Linked DNA regions of Homo sapiens: region 2 is linked to region 1. The links come from fine-mapping of genetic effects on gene expression. Tissue or cell type: lymphoblastoid cells. Region 1 holds a variant in brackets; the other region holds the start of a gene. All regions are shown on one strand. Distances are between the middles of the regions.

Region 1 (2,500 bases):
GAAGATCTAGGAGAAAGGAAACAGTAAGCCACTGCTTCTTGGAAAATCTTCTGGGGGTCTGACCTGCTGGGACTGTTCCCTTTCCTCTTGCCCCGTAAGATTCCTAGGGCGGGGGGGGGGGGGGTCACTCTTTTCTGATCTACATTCTGATCTTGGGACTTCTTTCAGTGGCTGCAGCTCACCATGTATGCCTGAACCAGGCTGGCCTCATCCAAAGCCATGCAGGATCACTCAGGATTTCAGTTTCACCCTCTATTTCCAAAGCCATTTACCTCAAAGGACCCAGCAGCTACACCCCTACAGGCTTCCAGGCACCTCATCAGTCATGCTCCTCCTCCATTTTACCCCCTACCCATCCTTGATCGGTCATGCCTAGCCTGACCCTTTAGTAAAGCAATGAGGTAGGAAGAACAAACCCTTGTCCCTTTGCCATGTGGAGGAAAGTGCCTGCCTCTGGTCCGAGCCGCCTCGGTTCTGAAGCGAGTGCTCCTGCTTACCTTGCTCTAGGCTGTCTGCAGAAGCACCTGCCGGTGGCACTCAGCACCTCCTTGTGCTAGAGCCCTCCATCACCTTCACGCTGTCCCACCATGGGCCAGGAACCAAACCAGCACTGGGTTCTACTGCTGTGGGGTAAACTAACTCAGTGGAATAGGGCTGGTTACTTTGGGCTGTCCAACTCATAAGTTTGGCTGCATTTTGAAAAAAGCTGATCTAAATAAAGGCATGTGTATGGCTGGTCCCCTTGTGTTTTGTTGTCTCACATTTAGATATCAGCCATGCATGACTGAATGGCTTCCAATCATATACTCACCTATCACCTACAAGAGAACAATGAAAAACACACACAAAAACAAAATCTTGAATTTTGTAATCATGCCTATTGCTATTTCTTGAGCATAAGAATGGCTCAGATACTTTCCAAGACATAAAAGGAAGGCAGAGGAATAGTTGTTGCTGTAAAAGACATCAAGAATAAATGGGTCATGTACAACGGGAGGGGCCGGTTACCTGAATAATGGAGTGGAGATTGAGCTATCCTAGCTCCTCTGCTCACTAACTGACCTGTCGCATGACCGTGGACAAAACCCTGAACGCAGCTGTTTGTTTGCTAAACTTCTCTGGACCATGGCCTGCGGCATATCTATAGGCATCCTGTGTTTTCCACCCAGTTTCCTTCTTCCTCGCTAAGCCAACGTGGAAAGGGCTGGCCGTGAATATGCAGACAAGGTA[A/C]CGAAAGTAAACCGTCAATTAGTAAAAGTACTTTATTTTCCTCTTGTATTTGCTTTATATCTTGCTTTACAAAGTTACGAAGTTCACAGCTTTATACCAAAATGTAAGAAGGCTATTTGCTTATAAACATTTTTGCAGTCAGGTGTCATCTGATTTCATTCTTCTAATCCATATTCAATATTAAAAAAATCAGAAACCAAGGGTGCTGGAGCAGCTCTAGGGCATATATTTCTCTTAAATAGGAGAAAGATTTTCAACAGCTTTTCCTCCTTGACCCCCTCCTTTCCCAATTTATTTGGGTCACTACCTTGAATTTAGAGTGAATCTGGGAAATGTAGTCACCAGGTAACCCAGCAGGGCCATATACTTGGGCTTGGAGGTGAGGTTAGAGGTTACTGTCTAATACAGTAGGTCTGGTTTCTATGAGGAGCTCATATCCACTTGCATAAGGAAACCTAGTCTATCCCAAATCACCTCCACCACAACTTCTATTCCTGTCTATTAGACCACTTCTCTTAAACCCGAGGAACCTGATGATTTGGGGGCAGGGATAAAACCATTATTTTATAAATGTGGCAGGTATGGCCTTCGTAATTCTAGAAGCTCCCGTTTAGGTAACAGAAACAAAATTTAGATGTAAGCATAAACTGCAGTTATTTGAGCAAACCAGAGCATATGTGCTGTTCAAATCCCACTTCACAATATACTTCAATCTCACCTCCAATGAATTCTCTTCCATAAAATAAACCATTCCACTAAGTATATACCTACTCCCACCAAATCATCCACATGCCTCATCACTAAAGTTGTCCCTTGTATAATCTACCAGCAAAAAGACAAAATAAAACCTGTGTTAAGCAAATAATCACTTAAACAGTAATAATATTGCCTCTAAATTAAAGGTAAGTCAGGAGCTGAACACTCAACTGTTAACTCTTCTGGGGAAGAAGAAAATTTTTCCCACAAAAGCAGGAGTGCAGTAGTAAGTAATGACTTTCTCTCAGATTCAAGTAACATCAGGTCAAGATAACCTTTGCTGTTAGAGTTTTGTTTGCATGGTGTGGAACTGCTTTATAAACTGAGTAGAGACGTATGCCAAAATTATTTTTAACCTAATTAAAAACTTTCACAGAAAACTTGAAGTGACTGATACTTTATCACAACGAACTGCCATTTAAACACTAGCATAGGTACACAAAAAGATTTATACTATGGTTTTCTTGGCTTTAAGCCATTAGAATTAGACAAAAGCAACCGAGAGTAACATTCT
Region 2 (2,628 bases), 140 kb before region 1:
ATAGTGGTATTTCTGAAGAGGATCTTTCCAAAACTAAAATAATTTTTCCCCTGCAAACATAAAGGAAAGATAATTAGCCTCAGATGGCTTCAATTACCAAAGCATCATATAACTATCTAAGACTGCTAGAAATTCCAACTTAACTTAAATCTTTATGGGACGTACCCCTTAATCAGTTCATTCCCTTTACTCACCAATCACTGCTCAGAATAACCAATCATTTTTTCTAATGAACTATTCTGTGTGCAAATAACCAGAGTTTTATTTTCAAATCTAAAAAGACTTAACTATTAACCATTTTAGTAACAAGTAAAAACCTAACTGAACACCTGAAAATCTTCACCACTGAACAAAAGGTATAACGTTTACCATAATAAAAGCCCAAATAAGATTTGGACATTACAGTCAGTGAGCAGAGCAGAATGAAACAAAAAGGCCAACGTAGGTTTAATGGGGCTAATGCTTTTCAGCATTTCCTCCCTGCATCTGGTTTTTGTCTGCTCACAGGACTATACCTGTTACTGAAATAAGGTTTAAAATGGGTAAGGGGCAGAAAGGGTCAACCCATGTAGTTAATTATCCAAATGAAAGACTAGCCTTACCACATTAAATTTTAAGTACTATTTCTTCAATTTTAACCATTCCCATGTTAAAACACATTTCTTAAATCTCTATGCTTTCTAGTCACACAGTAAAGCTTAGAATAGCCATTCCAAAGTTGAAGCGAAGTCGAACCATCTCGTAAGCAGAATTACCCAGGGACCAAGAAGTGCAGAGGAAGAAAAAGAAAGAAAGAAATGAAGACTCCTATTTACATATCTTTCTTATCCAACCCGGGGACACTGGATTCTGTGAAACATCTGAAAGATAAACAACTCTCCGTTTGTACATCAAGTTTACATCTCAAGTCAGGCACTGAAAGTTCTGTTTTTCTGATGAGAAGCCGCTCCACCACTCCTTTCTGTTGCTGAAGTGGCCCTTACATTCCCGCTAGCCTAATCACAGAAGTGCGCGGCTTTCCACTCCAGGGAGGTGGGTCCCAGTTGGCTAGCCACACAGACCATCCCAGCAACCCCACCCCTTTTGAAGAGACTTTTGCGGAACCTTCATGGACCCCTTGGGCCGCCGTAGCCCCACCCCTTGCTCCTCTAGGTTCAGACGTTAGTGAAGTGAATACTCACCGACGGTATCGGAATGTGCCATTTGGACCGGTCGGCAGCAGCTACGGTTGCCGGTCCCGCACTGAAAAACGACAGTGGTGACGGGTGAGCTCCCAGAAGCAGAAGAATGACAGGCAACACCTGAAGCCACGCAGCCGCCGCCATCTTCACAGCCGTGGAGTGCCTACCGAAAGCATTTCACCCTCTTCCGGTTCGTCCCGCCTTCTTCCGGCTCTGCTCTAAGGGCGGGATTATCCGGGTCCTGGAAACGTCGCGGAGCTTGTTTGCTGTGCGGCGTAGCGGCCCCTCTCTCAGACAGTCGTCTGTGCGCCGTGAGACTTTGGACCTACTGCGCAGGCGTCATCCTGTTGGAACCTGGTCAGCTGGGTTAGAGAGATCGCTACATGCCAGCCTGGCCTGAGTCTTTTCTGTCTCCCAGCCGTTAAAGGTTTTAGGACCAGGCAGGCACCCCGTGCAGGATTTGGCTCTCTACTTCCGCTCGCCCCAGCCCTTCATCCCTTCTAAGTCAATGTCAGACTTTGGGGCCAGAAAGTCTGGAAAAGCCCTAAGCCTGGCTGCCCAAGTGGCGTCTAGTAGTGAGTTCTCCGGTTTGGGTGGTATTTAAGCAAAGGCTGGAATTCGGCGGTGGTGGAGTACACGCGATTCCTAGACTGGGTAGTGTAACAACCTTCAAAGGCCCCTTCTAGCCCTGAAGAGTACGATGCTGCAGTACAATCTGGCTGGAGACCTAGCCTCCAGCAAAGACCCGGCCGGCACTTCCCACCCTTAACCGAAAACGGAGACAGAGAGGGTCAGTTTTCAAAATCTGTGGCGTGACCCCGCCACTGAGATAGATCTGCAGATGCTTCGTCCCAGTCAGGGAGGCCGTCTCGGCATTTCCAGGTTCTTAACGCTCTTGATTTTTACCCTCTAGGACTCATTGCGTACACGCCCTCACCGCCGCCCAGTTTCGGTTCCTAACAAAAGCACGTTCCTCATCAGCCACCCATAATCAAGACAAATTTGCCAAATAAATCATTGTAGAAACGCTAGTTTGGGCCTGAAAAATTCCAGGAGCAAGAGTCAAGATTTGTCACTCCATGAGAATCTGGAGGGGACTCCCTTCCCAGAAACTTGACGATGAAGTACTGGTTGTAATTTTAGAAAGACACCCAATCGGCTTTTTTAAAAGATCGCCCAGGGCCCTTGTCCTGAGAGCTGGGAGCTGGTCGGAGTGACAGAGAAGCCATGGAAGCAGCAGTGAAAGAGGAAATAAGGTAAAGGCCAAGTGCTTCTGTAGCGAGTGACCCCAGGGTCCCTAGAAACAGGGAATAGTGTTTTAATTGCATTTCTTATTTGCGTATTTGGTATTTGCTGACCTTTATCTTTTCTCTCAATTCGCGGGAAGTTAGTTGATATTAATAGCCTCTCATAAAATACTTTCAGGATGGTTAAATAGGCCGGGTGC

Direction of the effects. Positions count from the first base shown, and alleles are read on the strand shown. Sizes are in standard deviations (SD) of each study's normalised expression.
As copies of C replace A in region 1, the expression in lymphoblastoid cells of the gene that starts at base 1,128 in region 2 goes down (large effect, 0.80 SD a copy in GEUVADIS).

The links. PIP is the estimated chance that this variant, and not a neighbour inherited with it, causes the effect.
Region 2: it holds the start of GANC, and the variant in region 1 is fine-mapped to the expression of GANC in lymphoblastoid cells (GEUVADIS, PIP 0.91).

What each region holds. Positions count from the first base shown.
Region 1 is chr15:42,411,579-42,414,078 of GRCh38, forward strand. CAPN3 (calpain 3) reads left to right here. Exons shown (of 24, transcript NM_000070.3): 24 at 169-739. The coding sequence ends at 195. It overlaps ZNF106 (zinc finger protein 106), which reads right to left. Exons shown (of 22, transcript NM_001366845.3): 22 at 1,245-2,500. Among named protein-coding and RNA genes, the nearest start is that of CAPN3, 53 kb to the left of the region's middle. The variant A/C (reference allele first, on the strand shown) is at 1,231.
Region 2 is chr15:42,272,074-42,274,701 of GRCh38, forward strand. It overlaps GANC (glucosidase alpha, neutral C), which reads left to right and starts at 1,128. Exons shown (of 24, transcript NM_198141.3): 1 at 1,128-2,437. The coding sequence starts at 2,409. TMEM87A (transmembrane protein 87A) reads right to left here and starts at 1,360. Exons shown (of 20, transcript NM_015497.5): 1 at 1,182-1,360; 2 at 1-50. The coding sequence starts at 1,325. RefSeq lists enhancers at 710-959, 1,120-1,349, 1,322-2,521.